2 linked regions of the Homo sapiens genome follow. The protein of the gene in region 1 purifies or fractionates together with the protein of each later gene. This does not show direct contact. Each region holds a gene or a part of one and is shown on either strand. Other genes may lie near its edges.

What was found. Proteins that work in one complex are often made in the same cells at the same time.
Region 2: the proteins of ARPC1A (region 1) and NCAPG purify together in Homo sapiens (affinity purification with mass spectrometry; 3 studies listed by BioGRID and IntAct, with this or other methods). This does not show direct contact.

What each region holds. Positions count from the first base shown.
Region 1 is NC_000007.14:99,341,993-99,347,638, reverse strand, and holds part of ARPC1A (actin-related protein 2/3 complex subunit 1A), read right to left. Parts: intron 3,347-5,646; coding exon 3,124-3,346; intron 1-3,123. UniProt on the Homo sapiens protein: Probably functions as a component of the Arp2/3 complex which is involved in regulation of actin polymerization and together with an activating nucleation-promoting factor (NPF) mediates the formation of branched actin networks.
Region 2 is NC_000004.12:17,820,979-17,824,478, forward strand, and holds part of NCAPG (condensin complex subunit 3), read left to right. Parts: intron 1-2,004; coding exon 2,005-2,145; intron 2,146-2,668; coding exon 2,669-2,792; intron 2,793-3,500. UniProt on the Homo sapiens protein: Regulatory subunit of the condensin complex, a complex required for conversion of interphase chromatin into mitotic-like condense chromosomes.

The DNA of each region.
Region 1 (5,646 bases):
TCTGCCTCCTGTGTTCAAGCAATTCTTGTGCCTCAGCCTCCCGATAGCTGGGATTATAGGCTCACGCCACCACGCCCGGCTAATTTTTGTAATTTTAGAGGAGATTAGCTTTCACCATGTTGGCCAGGCTGGTCTCAAACTCCTGGTCTCAGGTGATCTGCCTGCCTTAGCCTCCCAAAGTGCTAGGATTACAGGCATGAGCCACCACGCCTGGCTACAGAATCACTTTCTTAGTATCCTGTCTGAAGAAGTTCATTCTGAAAAAGACAGCCAGGTGCAGAGGCTTGCAACTATACTCCCAGCACTTTGGAAGACCAAAGCAGAAGGATTGCTTGAGTACAGGAATTTGAGATCAGCCTGGGCAAGAAAAGTGAGAACCTGTCTCCACAAGTAATCAAAAAATTAGCCAGGTGTGGTGGTGCAAACCTGTAGTCCCAACTACTTGGGAGGCTGAAGTGGCAAGACTGCTGGATCCCAGGAGTTGGAGACTGCAGTGAGCCGTGTTTGTACCACTGTACTCCAGACTGGGTGACAGAGAGAAACCCTGTCTCAAAAAATAAATAAATAAATAAAATAAAAAACCAAAATCCCCCACAAAGTCTCTAAAAAAGGAGAAAAAGACAGTATTTCGAATTGTTTCATAATGTATACATATTTTTTGAGACAGAGTCTTGCTCTGTTGCCCAGGCTGGAGTGCAGTGGCATGGTCTCGGCTCATTGCAACCTCTACCTCCCTGGTTCAAGCGATTCTCCTGCCTCAGACTCCCAAGTAGCTGGGATTATAGGCATGCACCACCACACCTGGCTAATATTTTGTATTTTTAGTAGAGATGGGGTTTCTCCATGTTGGCCAGGATGGTTTCGAACTCTTGACTTCGTGATCCGCCTGCCTTGGCCTCGCAAAGTGCTGGGATTGCAGGCGTGAGCTACCGTGCCTGGCCTTTATAATGTAATTTTTTTAATTAAGGAAAAGATGGCAAGCAAAATAATTAGTTCATATGGCTGAATTATAAACTTCTGAGAAGTTGTTTTAAAGTACTCCTATGAAATATGAAATAATTGTTCTACAGCTGAGAAACTGCCCTAAACATACAGCTTGTTCAAAGACAATACCTTGTACCATAATAAAGTCCAATTTACCTATACTTGACACTAATTCTCAACGAATAAAAATGTAAACAATTACTGAGGTTGAAGCTTAACTTGGAAGAAAAGTTTCCTGTAGAAATTTGTAAGATTGCAAGGAGTACCAGCTGACATAAAGTTTAGCCTTGAGAGAATATTAATGAAGTTAGTTTCCTATCTCATTACAATGAAACTTCCAAATAGTTTCTAGCAGGTAACATTTTGTTAGCCTTGATTTCACATTTGAAAGAAAAATGTATGTTTCAAATTCGTAACTCAATTTTTTTTTTTTTTTTTGAGACGGAGTTTCACTCTTGATGCCCAGGCTGGAGTGCAATGGCGTGATCTCGGCTCACCGCAACCTCTGCCTACTGGGTTCAAGAGATTCTCCTGCCTCAGCCTCCCAGGTAGCTGGGATTACAGGCATGCACCACCACACCCCGTTAATTTTTTTGTATTTTTAGTAGAGACAGGGTTTATCCGTGTTGGTCAGGCTGGTCTCGAACTCCTGACCTCAGGTGATCCACCTGCCTCGGCCTCCCAAAGTGCTGGGGTTACAGGCATGAGCCACTGTACCTGGCCCATAACTCAATTTTACCGCAAATTCCCAATCTCTTTTTGAAGAATAAAATTTCTGAAGTTTTACTAAATTACAAAGGTAACATGATAATCCCCTTCTTTCAATTTCAGCAGAATACAAATAACAAAACAGCTACAAAGAGTCATGTATACTCTGCTATTTTTAGTAGAAACACAAACACTGCCAGTTTAGTAGTAAATGACAACTTTACGTTGAAGGATATTTACCAGTCATGCTGAACACATGCCACACAGAAAAATAATTTTTTTTTTTTTTGAGATAGAATCTCACTTTGCCGCCCAGGCTGGAGTGCAGTGGCACGATCTTGGCTCACTGCAACCTCTGCCCTCCGAGTTCAAGTAATTCTCCTGCTTCCTCCCAAGTAGGTGGGATTACAGGTACCTGCCACTGTGCCTGGCTAATTTTTGTATTTTTAGTAGAGATGGGGTTTCACCATCTTGGCCAGGCTGGAGAATAATTGTTTCCTTATCAAAACAAACAGGAAGGAGTAGTTAAAATAAGTTTTGGCCATAAAATAAACCTGTGTTTTGACTGGGTCAGCAAGAAGTAATTTAAAAAATGTGCAATAGCTGATTAGACTTCTAAGATTCTGGTGAGTTTTGACTTCAACAGTTTAAACAAGTAAAATATTACACCAAGACACAGATTTGGTTGGCAAATAAGCTTTAAAGAAGGAACATTGACCAGGCGTGGTGGCTCACGCCTGTAATCCCAGCACTTTGGGAGGCCGAGGCGGTGGATCATGAGGTCAGGAGTTCATGACCAGCCTGGCCAAGATGGTGAAACCTTGTCTCTACTAAAACTACAAAAATTAGCCGGGCACGATGGCAGGTGACTGTAATCCCAGCTACTCAGGAGGCTGAGGCAGGAGAATTGCTTGAACCAGGGGGCGGACGTTGCAGTGAGCCATGATCGTGTCACTGCGCTCCATCCAGCCTGGGCAACAGAGTAAGACTCTGTCTCAAAAAAAAAAAAAAAAAAAAAAAAAAAAAGAACATTGTTATCTGTAGGAATCCTACATAGATATCCTGTGAAAAAAAAAAAAAAAGAAAAAATATTCCTCAGGGAACGGAGACTCTTTCAATGTTATTATTTGTAAATGAGAGTAAGAAAACAGCAATTTGCGCAGTATAGAGTGAGAACAGTAATAGCATCTTGCAGAAGAAACAAGTTAGGCGATCAGAACATGGACACAATAGCTCTATGTTAATATAAAAAACGTGCGATTTAACTTAACATGCACATGAGAAGGGAAAATGCTCAGACAGAATCGAGAATTTCAGAGAAAAAACCACACAACTCCGGATGAGAAAAACTGGAGTTATGGTGAGCCCTCACACAGCAGTGCAAATGTAAATTCTATAGAGAGGGATAGAAAAAATTCAGATGTCACTCACCAGTCATTTTCAGACTCAAAGTAACAAACAGAAATGAGTCGTGCTCCACTTCCCACAGCAAATTTGTTCTCTAGGGGGGACCACTTCACAAAAGTAGCTGCGCGATTAATTCTCAGGATCACCAGGGTTGGCTTCCAAACACCATCTTTCTGACTCCAGACATAGGCATTGCGGTCTGCCCCACAAGTGACAATGCGGTCGCTCTTGGGAGCCCAGTCAATACCTGCAAGTGAGACATGGGTCATCTGCTTTGCCCAGTCAATGACAAACAACTGCGGCACAGGCAGGTGGGTGGCACTGGCATGCCAGGATGAGACGTGGTCTTGGGACCTTCCTCCCAGGCACATCCTTCCCACTATCTATGTCCTGATCACCGCCTCAAGGAAAGGCAAGGATGCTTCTCTGCAAAGCGTCTGGGACTCGGGATTGTCTATGAGGTCATGTAGAAGAGCTGTTTTATAATTACAGACTTTACAAAACTAAACGGGGCCATTCTTTCCACCCATTCACACATTTCTAAGACTTCTAAAGATCTGAAGATTCATTACTTCTTTCTTTCCTCTTTATTAGATTTTTGTGTGTGTGAAAATAACTGTATTCATTAACACACCTCATTCTATGATATTAACCAACAGTCTGCTACATGGCATTCAACTAAAACAGCATACAGGGTAAATAAAAATAATCTTTAGTGTAAAGAGGGGGAACTATATATTGTGATTCATCATATATTCTTCTGAAAGTCACTGCCAGTTGAACCATACTGAAAACCTTTTCTACATGATGCAGGTCCTGTGAAAGAATCCTTGTTTCTTTGCATCTAAACCAGGAAGATACCTAAATATGTATCTGAATGTAAGGTTTATTTTTCTTATTTGATGAGACTTTACTTATCTGGTACCTCTGTGAAGAATCCCAAAGTCAAGGTCAGTTTTTCATATACCAAGACTCAAGGTCAGTTTCTTATATACCAAGAGCAAAATTCACCATGACTCATTTAACACTTATTGATGAGGTATTTTCTTTTCTTTTCTTTCTTTTTTTTTTTTGAGATGGAGTTTCACTCTTGCAGCCCAGGGTGGAGTACAATGGCACGATCTCAGCTCACTGCAACCTCCGCCTCCCGGGTTCAAGCGATTCTCCTGCCTCAGCCTCCCGAGTAGCTGGGATTACAGGCAGATGCCACCATGCCCGGCTAATTTTTGTATTTTTAGTAGAGACGGGGTTTCACCATGTTGACCAGGCTGGTCTCGAACTCCTGACTTCAGGCGATCTGCCTGTCTCAGCCTCCAAAGTGCTGGGATTATAGGCATGAGCCACAGTGCCTGGCCTTGATGAGGTATTTTCTATAAATATAATTTCACATTAAAAAGTACAGAAATATTACTAATAAATATTTATTACAGATCTCTCTCTAAAAATTAATAATTAGCATTCTTGACATTTATATGGAAAAAAGACAAATATACCTCTGAGCCTCAATTACCCATAAGTCATAGTGACTGAAGAGTTAGGCCGGGCGCGGTGGCTCTTTGGGAGGCCGAGGCAGGCGGATCACGAGGTTAGGAGATCGAGACTATCCTGGCTAACACGGTGAAACCCTGTCCCTATTAAAAATGGAAAAAATTAGCCGGGCGTGGTGACAGGCGCGTGTAGTCCCAGCTACTTAGGAGGCTGAGGCAGGAGAATGGTGTGAACCCGGGAGGCGGAGCTTACAGTGAGCCGAGATCGCACCACTGCACTCCAGCCTGGGTGACACAGCGAGACTGTGTCTCAAAAAAAAAAAAAAAAAAAAAAAAGTAGTATGAAGAGTTTAGTTTATTCATTCATTTACCCACATGAAATATCAGCTCAATTTTTTGTACCACTGAAGGGAAGAAAATATGAGAATGTGTTCTAAGTGATGTTTATTTTATTTATTCATTACAAGATAATTTTGCTTGCTGTCCTCTTTATTAGATTTTTTTTTTTGAGACAGGGTCTCACTTTATCACCTAGACTGGAGTGCAGTGGCGTGATCATAGCTCACTGCAGCCTCAACCTCCCAGGCTCATGAAATCCTCCTACCTCAGCCTCCTGAGTAGCTGAGACTACAGGTGCAAGCCACCATGCCTGGCTAATTTTTTGTAGAGATGGGGTTTCACCATGTTGCCCAGGCTGGTCTTGAACTCCAGGGCTCAAGTGATCTGCCTGCCTCAGCCTCCCAAAGCACTGGGATTACAGGTGTAAGCCTGATCAATATTTATTATTATTAAAAAGAAAAATCATTATCTTTTAGAGATGCAAACTGAAATATGAAACAATATAATGTCTGGGATGTGCTTCAAATTAGTACAGGAAAGGAGAAAGTGAATTGAGAAGAACAAGATTGGCTGTTACTCGATAATCGTGGAATGCAGGTGATGGGTATAAAAGGCTCATTATACTATTCCACTTTTTTAAAAATCTGTTTAAAATTTTCCATGGTAACAAAACATGTTTCTTAAAAATATTTAATACAAAAGAATAAAACCTCAGAACTCT
Region 2 (3,500 bases), on another chromosome or scaffold:
TGAGTGGTCTCTTCATTATAATAAATGTCTTTATAAATGGTTAGGATTTCATGGTAACTAAAATTGGTGGGTCAGTTTTAAGTTGTATTTATGCAGTTGAGGATTTTTAATCTATTAATTAAACAACTGTTTGAATTTACTTAAAAAAAAAAACTCAGTCAAGATGCTGTGCATTTTGCTAAAGCTGGGCTGGAGAAGTGGGGAGAGATACAAAGATGAGTATAAATGAAGGTTTTCTTTTAGCCTGTCAGAAAAGAGTAACTCTACTGATTGGTTGATTTTGATAGTTATCGGTAGTGTAGTTTTCCTTAGTTTCCTACTAGAACCCAAAGGGTGGCTGATGTCTTAAAAGTCCTAATCTTGTGGCCAGAAATTTATGAGCTTTTATTTACTCTTGGTCATCACTTTGTAATACATGAGAGTATACTCATTATACATTATACCACAATTTCTGTAACTTGGTTTTTGTCACCCCCGCCTTTTTTTTTTTTTTTTTTTTTTAAGAGACGTAGTCTTGCTTTGTTGCCCAGGCTGGAGTGCAGTAGCGTGATCTTGGCTTACTGCAGCCTCTGCCTCCCAGGTTCAAGCAATTCTCCTGCCTCAGCCTCCTGAGTAGCTGGGATTATAGGTGCCTGCCACCACATTTGGCTGGTTTTTATATTTTTAGTAGAGATGGGGTTTTACCATGTTGGTTAGGCTCTTCTTGAACTCCTGATGTCAAGTGATCCTCCCGCCTCAACCCCCCGAAGTGGTTGGGATTACAGGTGTGAGCCACTGTGCCCGGCGACATTTTTGACATTTTTTAAATGACATTTTTGATCAGGATTGTTTTTCATGTTACTTCCATCTTAAAGGCACTTCGCTGTCTAAGCTTCAATTCTTAGTTCTGCTTTTAAGTAGCTTTTTTTATTCCACACAAAAAGCAGAGGCTACTGAATATACAGCCTTCTTGGTGAGGATTATAAAGGGCTTTAGTTTGGGTGGTGATGTCTGTAGTAAGAATAAAAAGTTAAAATAAAAGGTAGCTGATGGTGGTGGTGTATACAGAGATTAGTAGGGTTTCTAAGAAAGAATAATAAAAATTTGTGAAATTGTTTCTATTTTTCTGATTTTTTTCAAAAAAGATAATTGTATTCATGGATTACTTGTGTAACTATTGTTACAATTTTTAAAAATAAAAGAATGATAATTAGGCATGATGAAGATTAAATCTTTTTTTTTTTTTTTTTTTTTGAGATGGAGTTTTTCTCTGTCACCCAGGCTAGAGTGCAGTGGTGCGATCTCGGCTCACTGCAACCCCTGCCTCCTGGATTCAAGCAATTCTTCTGCCTCAGCCTCCTGAGTAGCTGGGATTACAGTAGCCACCATGCCTGGCTAATTTTTTTGTACTTTTAGTAGAGACAGGTTTTCACCATCTTGGCCAGGCTGGTCTCGAACTCCTGACCTTGTGGTGCACCTGCCTCGGCCTCCCAAAGTGTTGGGATTACAGGTGTGAGCCACTGTGCCCGGCTGAAGATTAGATCTTTATGACTAATTGGATTTTTGGGTAAGGGATTCAGAACTTGATAGATGCTTCTTGACTTAAAGTGGGGCTATGTCATAAGTCAAATGAGTTTAATTCTCAGATAAACTCATCCTAAAGTTGAAAAATTGTAAGTTGGGCCACCTGTAATTGGGGACCATCTGTAATTGGGAGAATGCTAGTGACATTGAAATAATTAGTTATCAGTTAGACATAAATATGTACCTTTTGAAAATTTCCCATAGAAAATTTGAGTCATTATTGAAAATACATTTTCAAATTCTTTTGATTCATCAATAAGTTTGTTTGCAAAAGTTAATGACAGTGGCATAGAATTGAGTTTGTAGACCAAATTACATGGCATAGATATGTATTTAGACGAATATGACCTGAAAATGGCCCTTTTCTGACCTAATGGTGGGAATCAACTCTTGTTTGATGTTTCTTAAAAGATTCTACTTTATTAATTCTGCTTGTTTTAGTTACATCCAGAGCATTCCAGTTGTTAATGAAGAACACAGAGGTGATTTTTCCTATATTGGAAATTTGATGACAAAAGAATTCATAGGTCAACAATTGATTCTAATTATTAAGTCTTTGGATACCAGTGAAGAAGGAGGAAGGTATGTCTAAATGTTAACACTCATTCTAATTTGCCCTTCTAATTTCTTATATTGAAATATAGTCCTTTTACAATATAACTAAACATATTTACCCTAGCTCTCTAAAGTGGTATAAAAAGTTTTCTTTTCCCTTCTACATATTTCCATATATACACATACATTTATATTTCTAGTTCAATTTCCTCAGAATAAATCAATGAAATTGCAGTTTTTGGTTAAAAGTTTCTGTTTAGATTTATTAAGGCTAGTAGCATTTTCTAAAAGGTTTAATCATTTCTGGTATTTTGTCATTTTATCATGTTGATTTATTAAAAATCATAGGGTGTTTTATAAAAATTTTTTTTTGTGTGGAATAAGAATATTTGACCTAAAGTCTGTACATACAGATTTTTGTACCTATTATAGTGATAAACCTAAGTGAAAGAACTGAGGCAAATGTAATTAAGTTTGCAGAGTAGGTGAATGTTAGAGATAAAACATGTTTTGTCATAATAATATTTAAATTAGTTCTTTTTGACTGCAGAAAAAAACTGCTGGCTGTTTTACAGGAGATTCTTATTTTACCCACAATCCCAATATCCCTGGTTTCTTTTCTTGTTGAAAGACTACTCCACATCATTATAGATGATAATAAGAGAACACAAATTGTAAGTAATTTTCCTCATTGTTGATAAAGAGGTTTTGGTCAATGACATTGAATACTGTCTTATTTTCTGTTTAGAACTTTTTGTTTTGTCTGTTTTGTTTTAGGTTCGTCTCTTTAATGAGTTTTAAAATTTCTTAAAACCATTATCTATCTCTTACATACACAGAATATTTGAAAAATGTCACCTTCTTCCTCTTAGTGTACCTGTTATTGTTGAATCAGTTTGAAATGGAGCAGGTTTGGTAGGAAGTTACAAGTGGGGATATGGTTTTGTCCATGAGGCACTGGGTGCTAGTGTTTTTGAGAGCTTACTCAAATTGTACATACTAGGGTTTAGAATCTCATCTGACACTTTCTGGCTTTGTGGCTTTGGACAAGTTATTCTGCTGTTTTACTTGTCTGCAAATAAGAATAGCAATGAAATCTACCTTTCATTTTTCAATGAGGTATTGTTCATAAAGGTATTGTTCTGTATTGCTTGATAAATACAGAAATAATTGTTTACTATAATACTATTTCAGTGTTATTTTTTTCTGGCATAGCCAAAAAAGACAGATCTGTATCATTTATTTCATAAAAATCACATAATTTCAGTTGCAGGTTAATTCACAGATCATCTCTTCCATCCTCTCCTTATATATACACCCCTTCTACAACATGCTTAGTTGTTATTCAGCATCTGCTTAAATACTTTCATTTGGGAGGCAGC